Linked DNA regions of Homo sapiens: region 2 is linked to region 1. A link means that fine-mapping ties the variant in region 1 to the expression of a gene that starts in the linked region. Tissue or cell type: whole blood. Region 1 holds a variant in brackets; the other region holds the start of a gene. All regions are shown on one strand. Distances are from middle to middle.

Region 1 (8,101 bases):
TTAAGGAACATGTTGTATGTGTTCACACCACACCTCTTTCCTCCAGGCTGCCCTTGAAGCAGTCCCACTCCTCCTGGGGGTGCAGAGCAGGGGTCCACAGTGGTGCCTGCATGGGAAGCAGAAGAGGGCTGGCATGGAGAAGGGGGGCTCAGTGACCTTAAGCATCTAAGGCCTGATGGTCAACTTGGGTCCACCCTGCAGGGAAGCAGGTGCCCCTGCTGGCCTTCTTGCCATGCACAGGCAGACTGGGCCCTGGACCAGGCCTCCCACTTCCTGCTAATGAGGCGCGGCTCCTCCAAGGGCAGAGGGGCTATGCTCCTGGCAGGCGGGCTAGCACGTTGGTGAGCAAGGGTGAGAGTATGTCTGCCTGTGTTCTTTTAACTTCTGCAGAAAGGTCACCGAGGGGTCTCCATTACGAGCGGTCTTGAGCCCTGTACTATTTTTTCATACAATTTAATCTACTCCCTGGATGGCCTCCAGTGTGTGAGCCACTGACAATCGCAGGTTTTTGCAATTGATTTCCTGGAAGCAGCGGCCCAGCCGGCAGCCACATGATGGATGTATGCTAGGCAACCTGGTTCAGCAGAGGCTGAAGGGGCTTAGGAACCCCAGGCTGCCCTCCCACACCATGGCAAGGTCCCTGAAATGTCGGAAGCATGCACTTCTGCCCTCCAGCTCCACCCTGAATCATCAATGCCTGGAGAACCACTCACACATGTGCACAAAGAGACATGGGTGAGCATGCTCGGTGCAGAATTGTTTGTATGGTAAAAACTGGAGCCACCTTATCTCTTCATCAGGCAGGGCTGCTGCATTCTGGGTGTGGATGGCATCCCCTGGAATTGTGCAGAGGCACCATTTACCATGAAAACCTTTTGACCCATGTCCTCTAGAGCTGGGACCCTGAGTGAGGGGGAGTGAGAGGGGCGTGGTTGAATCAACTGTGTTACAGGCACGCATGGAATATTAGGTAGAGGTTAAAAACAAAAAATGAGGATAGCCAGGTGTGGTGGTGCTCACCTGTAGTCCCAGCTACTCATGAGGCTGAGGCAGGAGGATTGCTTGAGCCCAGGAGGTTGAGGGTGCAGTAAGCTATGATTGTATTAGTGCACTCTAGCCTGGGCAACAGAGTGAAACCGCATCTCTAGAAGAAAGAAAAAAAAAAAAGAGGAAGTCCTATTTTTGTTGACATGAGAAAATGTCCAGAATATACAGTTATGGGGGAAAAGTTGCAAAGCAATGTGGTCAGCATGATCCCCTTCATGTAAAATCAAAGCAAAACAAAGATCTTGACATCATCCCCCTGGGTACATACATGTATTATGCATGTAAACGCCCAGAAGTCTGGGATGATTGGGGAAAACGGTGATATTGGCCGGAAATGGAATAAAAGGAATTTTTCACTTTTCTTTCTTTCTTTCTTTCTTTTTTTTTTTTTTTGAGACAGATTCTTGCTTTGTCACCTGTCACCCAGGCTGGAATGCAGTGGCAAGATAGCTCACTCCAACCTCTGCCTCCCGAGTTCAAGCGATTCTCCTGCCTCTGCCTCCCGAGTAGCTAGGATTACAGGCACGCACCAATACACCCGGGTAATTTTTGTATTTTTAGTAGAGATGGGGTTTCACCATGTTGGCCAGGCTGGTCTTGAACGCCTGACCTCAAGTTATCCACCCGCCTCGGCCTCCCAAAGTGCCGGGATTACAAGTGTGAGCCACCGCGCCTGGCTCACTTTTCTTCTCTCTTTACCTCTGTGCTCACATTTTTTCCCCAGGGAGGGAAAAAAAAATTGTGTAAAAATAAAAAAAGAAAAAGAAACTTCCCTCCTTTCTTCTTTGCCTGTTACCTAACTCCCTTATCCGTCAAATCCTTCCCCAAATTCCCAAATTCCCATTTTTTATCATCTCCTACGGAGAGCAGCTCCCTCCAAAGTTCCTTCCCATTTACTCTCCAAGAACGAGCCCTGGGCAGGAGAGCTGGACATTGCCTGGACCCACATCAAAAGGCTCCTGCTGTGCTGGAAGGGTCAAAGCATCCTAGGCCCATCCTGGCCTTGTGATCTGAGTCTGGGGCTGCGGTGGCCAGGTTGTCCAGTGGACACTGTAGAGGCAGCCTCGGGGTGAGAAGCCCCTCATGTGGACCCGCAGCAGGGGACATAAGTGGGAAGGAACCCAAAGGCTCAGGGGGAAGCAGGGGTGTCGCTACATCAAGTAAAGCTCCTTCTCGCACCTGCCAGCATGCTGGGAGGATGCTACCTCTAGCATCCTAGGGATGGCAGAAAGGGGCAAGCATGGCTCTGCCTCCTGCCTCTGTGCCTGGTGCAGGCTCCACTGTGGTGTGGGGTCTCTGGCAGTGAGGACTAGGCTACAGCCACCACTCTGGCCTGTGAATCCTAAAGGAGCCAGGGCATGACAGTCCCCACTGCCAACCTAGAGTCCCTCAAACTCTCTATCTAGCCTGGCACTGCCTCCCTCGTCCTGCCAGACCCAGGGCAACAGCTGTGACTCTCCAGGGCTGTGCTCTGAGGGAGGAGCCCTTCCATTCTAGAGATTGCATGGTTGCCAAGCCTACCAAGGGCCCAGCCTTCACTGCCCGGGGAGCCTTTGTTTTCTCCTTCCTTGTTCTAGAAGGAAGAATGGGGGCTAGGGGCACGATCATGTACTATACACCTCTTCTGAGATAGGATCCCAGCTGGTTTCCTGATACTTCAGCCCATTCACATTCCTTAACTGCCCTATAGATGAGGCTCACAGACATGGGAGTGATGGGGTGTGATTTGGCCACACAACCCAAAGATATGGAGCTGAGACCCATACCCAGGTCCTTCCATCCCAGGGGCCACTCATTCCTACAATGCCTCAGTGCAGGCTTGCTGCTCTGCAGGCTCAGAGAGGATGCTTACCCTTTACTCCTGGTGAGCAGAGAACCTAGCCACGGAAGGAAGCCCAAAGAGGGACAAGCTCCTGGGGCTCCTGGGGGCCCCCCAGCCCTCCCTGACCCTCCTCTGCGGGGGCTGCTTCCAGGGGTCTTCCTTGCTTCCCAGTCCTCTGCATGCTTCCCTGACACCTCCACTTATGGAGCTCAGACCCTGCTTGCTGGAGTCAGGTCAGCCGGGCCTTGACCCCGCCCCTCCCCTGCTTGTGGATTTAGGGGCCTTTTTGCTGGCATCACCCTGTCCCAGCCAGACCGGGAGGACCCCTTCTTCTAAGCTCTCAGCCCTTCCTGCCAACATCTTTTAGCCAAGATTCAGCGAATCAGCAAAGTCTGACGGTTAACATGGCTCCCATCCCAGCTCTGTCATCACTAGCCATGTGACCTTGAGAATGTCTCGGAACATCTGTCTCCCAGTTTTGTCATCTATAAAATGGGGATGCTAACAGCGATATTCCTAGAGCTGTTGCAAGCGTCAAACATACACATAATTGGAACAGCTCCCCGCTGTGGTTTGTGCTCTGTATATCTTTACTGTTATTGTTATCTTTTTCTTCCTCTGAGCTCCTTCCACAGGATGGGTTATTCTGCAGATCCATGACTGGAAGGAAATTAGAGTGGGCTGGATGGAAACCAGGCCGTGGGCCTGATGAAACTGCCATATGGTGCTTTGCTCAGAGCTGTATACAAGAAGAACAAGTTCATATGCCAGTTGGGTGGTGGTGGAGATTGGGGAGGGAAGTAACAAGGACAGGGCTTTGCATATGCTCTATTTTTTGCCCCCTACCTTCCCCTAAAGCCCGTGGCCTCCAATCCCCATTGTCTCCCTTTCCTTTGGGTCTCTGGGTCTCTGATCGTCTTGTGAAAAACCCCATGGAGAGGCGGGGCAGCTGGAAAGAGGAGGAAGTGAGATGGATAACCATGCTGTCTAGTGGCTGGATAACCATGCTGTCTAGTGGCTGGCGCCCTGCGTGTGCTCAGCTACTGGCAGGTTCTACTGTGGTGTTTAACAGTAACTGTGAGCAGGCTGGGTGCAGTGGCTCACGCCTGTAATCCCAGCACTTTGGGAGGCCGAGGCGGGTGGATCACGAGGTCAGGAAATCGAGACCATCCTGGCTACCACGATGAAACTCTGTCTCTACTAAAAATACAAAAAATTAGCCGGGCGTAGTGGCAGGTGCCTGTAGTCCCAGCTACTCGGGAGGCTGAGGCAGGAGAACGGCGTGAACCCAGGAGGCGGAGCTTGCAGTGAGCCGAGATGGTGCCACTGCACTCCAGCCTGGGTGACAGAGTGAGACTCCGTCTCACAAAAAAAAAAAAACAAAAAAAAACCAGTAACTGTGGGCAAAGCCAATGTGAGTCTCGCAAGCCAACTGTGGTTTGTCTTTATTTCTTTCTCTCTACAAGAGACCCTTAAAAAGAAAGTCATTCTTGATACAAAGCACTGGGAACCCTCACAGTTGGCCCTAAAAACAACCAATAGCTCCTTATCTGGCACATGTATATCTCTTTGTTTTCCCCCGCTGTGTTGCCCCTGAAAATACCATGTCTGTCCTGCTCGCCACTGAGTCCTGATGCACCAAGCATGAACTAACGATTGATCTGCACTTGTAGACAGGGTGATGGAGAAGGGATCTGCAAACTTGGGAGCTTTACCAGAGAGCTAACACCTGTGAAAGGGCCTCATACAGTGTCTAGCACATAGTAGGTACCCCATAAATGCCACTTGACTCTGAGTC[TGG/G]GGGGCTGTTTGGTTGTCACCAATTTTGATGTATTTCTGGGCTAACATGTCCAGCAAGCAGGTGTGACCACACCCAGCCTGTTCAGGCTTAGCCAAAGAACTAGCAGCCAGTCCTTCCTGTGCAATGAGCCCAGCTCCAGCAGCTCACGTTGACTCCACCCAACCAGCTCTCTCAGCGGGTGATACCTGCCTTCTGCTGCGCAGGGTCTTTAATGCAATGTGTCTGTTTCAGGGTTGCCTCCTGAGGAGGGTAGAAGCCACCTCTAGCAACCCTCTGCTCAGCAGATAATGTCCCTTGCTAGCACCGATCCAAGGGGAAACAGGACCCACAGGCCCTTTGCAAAGGCTTCTTGAGGATAAGGAGGTGTTTCCCTCTGGGGTTCCTCTCTCGGCATTGAGGACTAAGGCATTTTCACAGCAACAGAATTCACTGTCTGACTAGTGCTTCCTGGAAGTCAAAACATGGTCAAGATCAGGTGACCAGGGGCCTCTAGAAGCCTTTGTCATAGTCATCTCCATGCTTTTACGTAACTTGGCCAGCCTGGACACACAGGTGACCTGCTACTCCTTGAGGGTTCTTAGGGCAGAGGAACCTCTGGCCAGGCCTCCTGGTGACTGGAAATGATGCGTGCTGAACTGCTGAGCATGCCTGCAAGGCCAGTGTAAACCACCATCCAGCCCCACCCCCACTCCCGCCCCACCTGCAGGCCCCCCTTGGGTACTCTAATGTGCCTGCGCCTGCCCACCTCGGGGCCTTTGTTACACAAAGACTTGCAAGCAGTGGTTCTGAAACTCGAACATGCATCGGAAGCCCCTGGTACGCTCATTCACGGATTCTGGGCCTCTTCCGCAGAGTTCCCAATTCAGTGGGTCTGGGGTGGGGCCTGACAGTTTGCCTTTCTTACAAATTTCTTTGCTGAAGTGGCTCACACCTGTAATCCCAGCACTTTGGGAAGCTGAAGCAGGAGAATTGCTTGAGCCCAGGAGTTTCAGACCAGCCTGGAAAACATGACAACACCTGTCTCTACAAAAAATAAAAAAATTAGGCCAGGCGTGGTGGCTCACACCAGTAATCCCAGCACTTTGGGAGGCTGAGGTGGGTGGATCACCTGAGGTCAGAAGTTCAAGACCAGCCTGGTCAACATGGTGAAACCCCGTCTCTACTAAATATACAAAAATTAGCCGGGTGTGGTGGCTGGAGCCTGTAGTGCCAGCTACTCAGGAGGCTGAGGCAGGAGAATTGCTTGAACCCGGGAGGCAGAGGTTGCAGTGAGCCGAGATCATGCCATTGTGCCCTAGCCTGGGGCAACAAGAGTGAAACTTCGTTCCAAAAAAAAAAAAAAAAAAAATTAGCTGGGTGTGGTGGTGTGCACCTGTAGTCCCAACTACTTGGGAGGTGGGAGGATCACTTGAGCCCAGGAGGTTGCAGTGAGCTATGTTTGCACCACTGCACTCCAACCTGGAAAACAAAGTGAGACCCTGTCTCTAAAAAAAAAAAATTTAAACCAGATTCCTTGGTGATTCTTATGCTGCTAGGCCAGGGGCCACATTATGAGAACCACCAGTATAAGCTATTTCTTCATTTGTCACTTCCTCGGGGAACCCTTCCTTGACCTCACCAAACAGATGAGGTTCTCGTACTAGGTGCTTTCATGGGATCCAATACTTCTCCTTCATGTCACTTATCACATTTTGCATTTACTATAAATTTATAAAAATGTTAAATTGATGTCAGTCTCCCTCTTAAGCCTATGTCTGTTTTACATACCTTTGTCTCCCTGGTACCTAGTATGGCGCCTTGTACATAGTAGATGCTCAACAAATCACTGCTGTATGAATGAATGAATGAGTGAGTGAATGAGTGAATACATGCAAAAGACATTCAGAGGCTTTCCTATGGTCACTATCAGCTCAGGCAACCCTGAGCACTAGGAGAGCATGGCTACTGGAACCAGATTCTCTGGGTTCAAATCCAGTTGGTTATTACTAGCTGTGTGACCTTGAATTGGCTACTTAATCTCTCCACGTGTCACCATTCTTGTCTGCAAAATGGTAATGTTACTAGTACCTGTGAGTAGTTCATAGGGTTGTACGAGGATTAAATGAGCTAATTTGTCTAGAGGGCTTCCTTTTCTGCCTACCACATGTGAAATACTATCCAAGGTGATGGCTTAATTGTTACCAAAGTGCCTGGCACGGAGGCCCCGCTTGCTTTATTTTAATAAGACCCTGGGCCAGGAACGGTGGATCACACCTGTAAGCCCAGTATTTTGGGAGACTGAGGCAGGTGGATCACCTGAGGTGAGGAGTTTGAGACTAGCCTGGCCAACATGGAGAAACCCCGTCTCTACTAAAAATACAAAAATTAGCTGGGCGTGGTGGTGCATGCCTGTAGTCCCAGCTACTTGGGAGGCTGAGGGAGGAGAATTGCATGAATGCAGGAGGCGGAAGTTGCAGTGAGCCGAGATCGCGCCACTGCACTCCAGCCTGGGCGAAAGAGCAAGGGTCTGTCTCAAAACAAAACAAAACGAAACAAAACAAAAAAACAAAGGCTCTGTCTAGGGATCAGCTTCTGGAGCATTTCCTCTGGTCGACTTGGGCAAGACCTAGACACAAGGAAGTAGCCCAGATTTGGGTTTGGATGAACTTTCCCAGAGTGCTCCATCCCCACCTACCAGGCCTCCATGATGGTCACACACAGTGCATGTTGGGCGGTGGAGGGCCTGGCTCCCGCTCCTCCAGCTGCTCCCCACGTGGATGGAGCTGGTGTTTCTGGCCTTCCCTTACCACCACCGGCCTGGTTTGGAGCTGACTCACCGCCAGGAGGGGGTGGTGATTAGTATGCAGGGCGAGTACTGGGAGGAAAGCTGTCTCCACGCAACAACTCTTGATGTGTTTCTCTGATTAATGTGGCAGAGAGAACATTGCAGCTTTTTCCTGAATGGTCGCCACGTGGAGCCGGAGTCATTAGCATTGTGTCTCCTGCTTGCCATGACCCGCTGACCAACCTAAGTAGATAAAAATGAAAATGGCCAAGACAGCTGCAAGGCTCAGAAACAAACTGCCTGGTGGCTTTGCAGCCATGGGAGAGTCTTTTATGTGGAAGGTTTCTGGAACAGCCCTGCCTTCTCCATCCTTTCACACGCCTCCAAAGCCATCCCTAAAGTTTTTGCTTCTGTATCTGCTGGTTCCTAGGGAGGTCAGAATTCCTTTCTCAGGAGTGGAGCCCAAGTGGGGGCACCTGTATTAAAACCTCCCCCAAGGGTGTGTGCTCCAAGCCAAAAGAGTGTGGGAGGAGGGGACAGGGGCTTTAGGGGGAGGGATCAGATTGGGCAAAGGACAGGAGATAAGGGAGCCAGGACAAGGAGGGGTCTGTGATGGATCAACCAGGCTAGGGCAAAAGAGGGCACGAGAAGACCTGAACTGAGAGCA
Region 2 (8,101 bases), 35 kb after region 1:
GGGGGGGGGGCGGTTTGGAGACAGCTGTGTTTTATAAATGAAAGGATTATGAGTCTGTAATGGAAGTCTGTTTAAATACACGTTGATTTCTAACTCAGTGTGTCTGAAGGCACCCCAGCATGTATGTGTGTATATATATCTCCTTTAGTAACAGTGAAGACAGAGACAGACAGGGAGATGGAGACATATGTGTGTGCATACCAAACATAACACCATGACATAGAATCCAACTTGCTTTCTCTAGCAGCCTGGCTGGAGGGTTGTGGCTAAGTTGCTATTTCCCTAATATTTTTGGTTTAATAAAGGGAAGGGCTGAATAAATATTAATGTAAAGAAATGGGTCACCCAACCGAGCCAAAGCTAAGGAGCCCCAGGCTGGCGGGGATGTCAAACCATTTCCCACCCCTATGTTTTGACTCACTCCAGGGTAGCGGTAGTGTGGGGAGGGCTGAAGTCTGGGAGAGTGAGGCAATGCTCCCCAAGCAACTCTTTGCAGAGGAATCACTGCAAAGTGCCAGCAGGCCAGAGAAAGTTTATTATTGCTCTAGAGTGCACAGTGAGCTCACTGTTTTGCAAAAACAGAAATCTGGCTGCTTTGAGATGAAAGAGGGGCTCCCTAGGGCTCCTCCTCCTCTTCTGTCCTTAAAAACTCGCCTTTCCTTTGCACTCAGGGGCCCCAGAATGAGTGGGAGATTGGGGCTCTGGGGAGGGTTGGATAGGGGAACAGGCTCTGGAAGTCAAGTGTCAAAATAAAAGTAAGTATCTCTTGTTGCTTCCACTGAACTTTATTGCAATTACTAGTAATAAGAGTGATAATAGTGATCCTCACAATTTATGCAGTTTACTAAGTACTGTCACATGTCAACCAGCAATAGTACCAACACTAGTATCAATACTAATAATAACTAACACTAACTGTGAGTCCAACACTGCTCTCCATTCTGTATGGTGTATTTAAGTTACAGTCTGGTAGTGACAGATCTACAACTTCTGTATATAGAACTCAGTGGTACAAATGCGCTTGGAAGGGGAGGCTGGGGGTTGGTTATGAAGGTGTATTGGCATAGTACTTACGTAAGATTGTATGTAACACCAAATCAACTGGGGCTGATGGGAATTTTGAGCACCCCAAACCACCTCTGCAAGCCTGAGCTTGTCAAAGACACCTCAAATCAGATTTACTGGATTCAAATCCCAGCCCCATCACTAATGGCTGTAGGCAAGTTATATAGCCTCTTTACTTTCCTGGTTTGTAAAATGGAGGTAAAAGAATCTACCCTGTAGATAATATTAAGGGTTTAATACTGTAATAGGCCGGTCACGGTGGGTCATGCCTGTAATCCCAGCACTTTGGGAGGCTGAGGCGGGAGGATCACCTGAGGTCAGGAGTTCGAGACCAGCCTGGCCAACATGGTGAAAGTCCGTCTCTACTAAAAATACAAAAATGAGCTGGGTGTGGTGGCGGGCGCCTGTATCCCCAGGTACTTGGGAGACTGAGGCAGGAGAATTGCTTGAACCTGGGAGGTGGAGGTTGCAGTGAGCTGAGATTGCGTCACTGTACTCCAGCCTGGGTGACAGAGTGGACTCTGTCTCAAAACAACAACAAAATACTATAGATAATATCCCCTTAATAATGTAGATAATATTAAGGGTGATGCAAGTAAAGCCACCTAGTTTACTAAGGTCCCACGGCAAGTCTAAGTAAGCGTTATCTCTTCTTATGACAAGAAACAAATTGAGGCCGGGTGAGGTGGCTCATGCCTGTAATCCCAACACTTTGGGAGGCCAAGGTGGGTGCATCACTTGGGCCCAGGAGTTTGAGACCAGCCTGGGCAACACGGCAAAACCCCATCCCTTTCCAAAAATACAAAAAAATTGGCCAGGTGTAATGGCACATGCCTGTAGTCCCAGCTACTAGGGAGGCTGAGGTGGGAGGATTACTTGAGCCTGGGAGGTCAGGCTGCTGCCAGCCGCGAGTGTGCCACTGCACTCCAGCCTGGGCAACAGAACAAGATCCTATCTCAAAAAAACAAAAAACCGAAGTTGAAATCTCAAACAACCCTAACAACCTGGGAGCTATCATTCCATTCTCTTTTCCATGGAAAAGAGAGATTTTGTGGGTAACTAGCTTAAGGGTGGAGAGCCAGTTAGTGATGGAGAGGAAATTTCAATCTGGTGGGCCACACTTCAGAATCCGAAATCCCATTATATTGCTTTCCCTTCTCCAGCCTTCCCTGGGATTATCTCAGTTTTCATGAAATAAAAAAAAAAAAAAAAGCAAACCCAATAATTAGAATAATCAATAGAAATGCCCCAACTAGAGCTATGACCAACATATCCATCGTGCCATAAGCAATACTGATGAGCAGTGATCTTGTAAGGCAGAAGAAATCACGGCCTTGGCCGGGCGTGGTGGTTCATGCTTGTAATCCCAGCACTTTGGAAGGCCGAGGCGGGAGGATCACCTGAGGTCAGGAGTTCAAGACCAGCTGGCTAACATGGTGAAACCATGTCTCTACAAAAATACAAAAAATTAGCTGGGCCTGATGGCGGGTGCCGGTAATCACAGCTACTTGGGAGGCTGAGGCGGAAGAATCGCTTGAACCTGCGAGGCAGAGGTTGCAGTGAGCCGAGATCGCGCCATTTTGCACTCCAGCCTGGGCGACAGAGCAAGACTCCGTCTTAAAAAAAAAAAAAAAAAAAAATCACGGCCTTGTTCCGCCTTCTGGGGCAACATGGAGTGAGATCACAGCGCCTGAGAAAGAACTTTGAAAACTGCGGCTGTGCTTTACAAAAATGTATCAGTATTATTAAATGCTGCCTCCACCTTTTAAAAATCAAACTCTAGAAAAAACACTCACCTGTTTGGCCTCTCCGGCCCCTCCCCCTCCCTGCCCTGAACTGCAGCTGTGCGCAGCCAGTTGCCTGTTTTCCTTAAAGGCCTCGGGGTGCTCGTATCTTCTTCAGACGTTCAGCCAAAATTTTTAAAGTGCGGCTGGGGGGAAGGGTAGCGCACTCTGAATTCATTTAGCTCTATCGTTGAAGCCCGGGTTCCTAGATCAGGGCACAAAAACAAATAGAAAAGACAATTTCTGGAAGATTGGAAAACAGCTAATTTTGCAGGTGCTTCGGCATCAGTGGTGGCGATGAATTTAACATCCATGCCGGGGGGGATAAGGTTCAACCGCAGATGAAATGGTTAATACCTTATACGAAATTCACGGCGAAAAATCCTGAAACAGGACATTTAAATTCACTGCCGAGGCTTGGGGGTGGGGTGGGGAGCAGGGATCGGAAACGACGCTAGTGGTTCTTAAATGCGTTTTTACTTGGGAATGCCCGGCAGGGAAAGGAAAGGTCATCGTCTGTTTAATTTCCACCCCCAGCTCTGGACTTCCAGCATTAGCTCGCCGGGCCTCAGCTGTTGTACACACACGGCGAGGGGGGAGGGGAGGGCGGAGGCGCGGAGGAGGGGCCGGCTGGGAGGAATCTGGGCGTCCTGCCGCGCATGCGCCTTGCCTGAGCAACAAGTGGGCTCCACAGAGGAAGTGTAAAGGGGAGGGGGAAGAACTGGTGCAGAGCATGGCGGTGACGTCAGCGCTCCGCCCGGGCGGCATCCCGCGCGGCCAAGCCGGGGACAGCGCGAGCCGCAGCCGGAGCAGGAGCGCCGAGACGCGCCTCCGGAACGTAGAGTAACAATCACAACCCCACATTCCGGGCGAGCGTGAGCACGAGCGGGAAGGGATGCGACCCGGGCCGAGGCGCCGCGCGAGCGCCCTGCAGCCAACGTGAGCGCCGCCAGCCGCGGCGGCCCGGGCGCCGGCCAGGCCTGGGGGCGGCGGGAGCCTGCGTGCGTGCACTCCTCTCCTCTGCTCTCGTGCGTCCTGGAAGCAGTGGCCGCGGCGGCTCCCTCCGGGGTGCAAACCCAGTCGCCGCCAGCAGAACGGCCGACGCTGCGGAGGGGAGAAGGTCCTTTCTCGGCTGCCACCCCCTCCCCCGGTCCTCCGGGGAAGCAGCGGCTTCAGCAAGATTGGACCCGGGCACCGGGTGGCACTGAACCCTCTGGCCCTCGCCCCAGGGGGCCCGTCGGGGAGAGGACGCAGCTCGTAGGGGGGTCCCCGGGGAGAGGAAGAGACAGCCCCTTTCGAGCTTCCACGCACCAGCCACTCCGGGGAGGGGGCCAAGAGGCAACGGCGGCCACCACCGGGCACCCTCGCCCCCTCCCCTCGGGCCGGGAGCTTCCAGCCCAAGTCTGCAGCACCAGGAAGAAGGCGCCTGAGCTCCCCTCGCGACGAGTCAACCGCAGTAGGAGGTGGGGGCGAAGAGAGGGCTGAACCCGTCCGCTGCCCGGGCGGTGGAGCCCCCACGGCGAGGCGCTGCGCCGGCGGTGGAGACTCGCGTTCCCTCCAGCCCCTGGGGCAGAACTTTCTCGCCCCCCCTCCTCCCTCCCCCGCAGTCGGACTCCCTCCCCAGCCGGCCAGTCCTCCCGGAGGAGAAGGCGCCGCGGAGACAGCCCGGGCGGGGGCCTACCTTCCCCAGGGCAGGCATCATGTCGGCGGCGCAGGTGTCCTCGTCCCGGAGACAATCTTGCTACCTGTGCGACCTGCCCCGCATGCCCTGGGCCATGATCTGGGACTTCTCGGAACCCGTATGCCGCGGTTGCGTCAACTACGAGGGCGCTGATCGCATCGAATTCGTGATCGAGACAGCGCGCCAGCTGAAGCGGGCGCACGGCTGCTTCCAGGACGGCCGCTCCCCCGGGCCGCCGCCGCCCGTCGGGGTCAAGACAGTGGCCCTGTCGGCTAAGGAAGCGGCGGCGGCGGCGGCAGCAGCGGCGGCCGCCGCCGCCGCCGCGCAACAGCAACAGCAACAGCAGCAGCAGCAGCAGCAACAGCAGCAGCAGCAGCAGCAGCAGCAGCAGCAACAACAGCTCAACCACGTTGATGGTTCCAGCAAGCCTGCGGTGCTGGCGGCCCCGTCTGGCCTGGAGCGCTACGGCCTAAGCGCTGCCGCCGCCGCCGCCGCCGCCGCCGCCGCTGCGGTGGAACAGCGCAGCCGCTTCGAGTACCCGCCACCGCCGGTGAGCCTGGGAAGCAGCAGCCACACCGCGCGACTGCCCAACGGCCTGGGGGGCCCAAACGGCTTCCCCAAACCAACACCAGAGGAGGGACCCCCAGAGCTGAACCGTCAGAGCCCCAATTCTTCTTCAGCGGCGGCGTCGGTGGCGTCTCGGCGTGGAACGCACGGTGGGCTGGTTACGGGGCTGCCCAACCCGGGGGGTGGCGGAGGCCCCCAGCTCACCGTGCCCCCCAACCTGCTACCGCAGACGCTGCTTAACGGCCCGGCCAGCGCTGCGGTACTCCCCCCACCCCCTCCCCACGCCCTGGGCAGCCGTGGGCCCCCGACGCCTGCTCCCCCAGGGGCTCCTGGGGGCCCCGCTTGTCTCGGGGGTACCCCGGGTGTATCGGCCACGTCGTCCTCCGCGTCGTCTTCGACCTCTTCGTCGGTGGCAGAGGTGGGCGTGGGTGCTGGTGGTAAGAGGCCCGGCTCGGTGTCGAGCACAGACCAGGAGCGCGAGTTGAAGGAGAAGCAGCGCAACGCCGAGGCCCTGGCCGAGCTGAGCGAGAGCCTGCGCAACCGCGCCGAGGAGTGGGCCAGCAAGCCCAAGATGGTCCGCGACACGCTGCTCACGCTGGCAGGCTGCACGCCCTACGAGGTTCGCTTCAAGAAGGACCACTCGCTGCTGGGCCGCGTTTTCGCCTTCGACGCCGTCTCCAAGCCCGGCATGGACTACGAATTGAAGCTGTTCATTGAGTACCCCACGGGCTCGGGCAACGTGTACTCCAGTGCATCTGGTGTGGCCAAGCAGATGTATCAGGACTGCATGAAGGACTTCGGCCGGGGCCTATCCTCGGGTTTCAAGTACCTGGAGTACGAAAAGAAGCACGGCTCCGGGGACTGGCGCCTGCTTGGAGACCTGCTCCCCGAAGCCGTGCGCTTCTTCAAGGAGGGCGTGCCCGGCGCCGACATGCTGCCCCAGCCCTACCTGGACGCCAGCTGTCCCATGCTGCCCACTGCTCTGGTGAGTCTGAGCCGCGCCCCCAGCGCACCCCCGGGGACCGGGGCCTTGCCGCCCGCCGCGCCGTCGGGCCGGGGCGCAGCCGCCAGCCTGCGCAAGAGAAAGGCCTCTCCGGAGCCCCCGGACTCAGCCGAGGGCGCGCTGAAGCTGGGCGAGGAACAGCAGAGGCAGCAGTGGATGGCGAACCAGAGCGAGGCGCTGAAGCTCACCATGTCCGCCGGGGGCTTCGCGGCGCCGGGGCACGCGGCGGGGGGTCCGCCTCCGCCGCCCCCACCTCTGGGACCCCATTCCAACCGGACCACCCCACCTGAGTCAGCCCCCCAGAACGGTCCGTCCCCTATGGCCGCTCTCATGTCGGTGGCAGATACTCTGGGCACAGCGCACTCGCCCAAGGATGGCAGTTCCGTGCACTCTACCACTGCGTCGGCGCGGCGAAACAGCAGCAGCCCAGTCTCGCCGGCCTCCGTGCCGGGGCAGCGCCGCTTGGCATCACGTAACGGGGACCTGAATTTACAGGTGGCGCCCCCGCCGCCTAGCGCCCACCCGGGCATGGACCAAGTGCACCCCCAAAACATTCCGGATTCCCCCATGGCCAACAGCGGACCCCTCTGCTGCACCATTTGCCACGAACGTTTGGAGGATACGCATTTCGTTCAGTGCCCTTCCGTCCCCAGCCACAAATTTTGCTTCCCTTGCTCTAGAGAGAGTATCAAGGCCCAGGGGGCCACCGGCGAGGTGTATTGCCCCAGCGGAGAGAAATGCCCCCTAGTCGGGTCGAATGTACCTTGGGCCTTCATGCAGGGCGAAATCGCGACTATCTTAGCTGGGGATGTTAAAGTGAAAAAGGAGAGAGACCCTTGAACCACTGGGCAGCCACCTCCTTTGCCCTAGACCAGCTCCTCTCCAATCCTGAGGGCCCCTCCCCCAACCCAACTCGACCCTCCCTCCCCTCACCCCCAAGGTGTAGAATTGTGAATATAACGAAACTGCAAAAAGTTAGTCTTATGTATAGACATTATTTTCGTCGTATGTTTCTATATTTTGAAACAAAGGTATGTAACTTCTTCATTTGAAGGATAAGCTGGTTTGTGTTAAGCAGTATAGTATTGGTTGGGTCATTTGCATCATATCGTTAGCATTTATTTGGTGGCAGAATGTTTGCCTAGGTACAGAATTAATAGCCCTTAGCAACGACTGCTGCTGGTGTGTATTTTTGTAAATGTTATGCACTCTCTGAAAGGAAAAACACACACAAAAGAAAAAGACTTTTTTTTTTTTTTTTTTTTTTTTGCCAAGGCCAGTGTTGCTGCCTAAAAAAAAAAAAAAAAAAAAAAAAAAAAAAAAAAAATGCTATAAAATGGTGAAAGCTTCCTTCTAAACTGCCCCAAGTGTTGAAGTCTTCACTTTATTTTGTTGTTTTGTTTTGTTTTTCTGTTTTGTTTGCAAAATGGTAAGGGGGTGTCGGGGGGGATGGGGTGTATTTTGTTGCAAGTTTGTGAGGGGAAAATGTTTTGGTTTGTTTCTACTGACCTGAATGTGTTGGATCTACACGTGTTGTTTTGTTTTTGCTTTATTGATGCACGGATGCTTTTGAACAGTAGAGCGAAATGCTAGACATGGAGAATCTGCTCTGTTTGTCCTTTATACATTTCTGTAGTTAACAGAACACTGTAATGTGCCTTGGAGCTTAGTAACTTGTAATAAATTCAATTGATATTAACTGCGCTGAGTCAGCAATTTTGTCTTTCTAGGGCTAAGGCCATGCAACTCCGACGTAGGCGACACCCTCCCTACCTCCAGTATAGAACGAAAATCCTAGTGCTTTTGAAAGCCCTGGGAGCTGGCCTGTGGGAAAGGCCCTGTGCTGCCTTGCTGCCCCTCCCCCTCGGTACCAGGCTATTTAAATTCACCTCTTGGGGAGGCGACAGTTGCTGACTAAGCGATTTCGGTTTACTCTTCAGCATCTCTATTTTCCCCCGGATGCGGGCCCAGCTGCAAATGGCATTGTCAAGAATGCTTTCT

Evidence for each region. PIP is the estimated chance that this variant, and not a neighbour inherited with it, causes the effect.
Region 2: IRF2BPL starts here. The variant in region 1 is fine-mapped to the expression of IRF2BPL in whole blood (TOPMed, PIP 0.99).

The regions. Positions count from the first base shown.
Region 1 is chr14:77,059,114-77,067,214 of GRCh38, reverse strand. It overlaps LINC02288 (long intergenic non-protein coding RNA 2288), which reads right to left. Exons shown (of 4, transcript NR_110554.1): 2 at 7,487-7,677; 3 at 1,021-1,144; 4 at 1-106. Among named protein-coding and RNA genes, the nearest start is that of LINC02289, 13 kb to the left of the region's middle. The variant TGG/G (reference allele first, on the strand shown) is at 4,668.
Region 2 is chr14:77,024,241-77,032,341 of GRCh38, reverse strand. IRF2BPL (interferon regulatory factor 2 binding protein like) reads left to right here and starts at 3,634. Exons shown (of 1, transcript NM_024496.4): 1 at 3,634-7,799. The coding sequence starts at 4,550. The coding sequence ends at 6,940. It overlaps LOC107984638 (a long non-coding RNA gene), which reads right to left and starts at 4,874. Exons shown (of 4, transcript NR_190002.1): 1 at 4,531-4,874; 2 at 2,862-3,054; 3 at 2,606-2,681; 4 at 770-2,515. It overlaps LOC105370579 (a long non-coding RNA gene), which reads left to right. Exons shown (of 2, transcript NR_169510.1): 2 at 1-783. RefSeq lists an enhancer at 2,061-2,581 and silencers at 3,345-3,474, 3,675-3,884, 4,005-4,504, 8,070-8,101.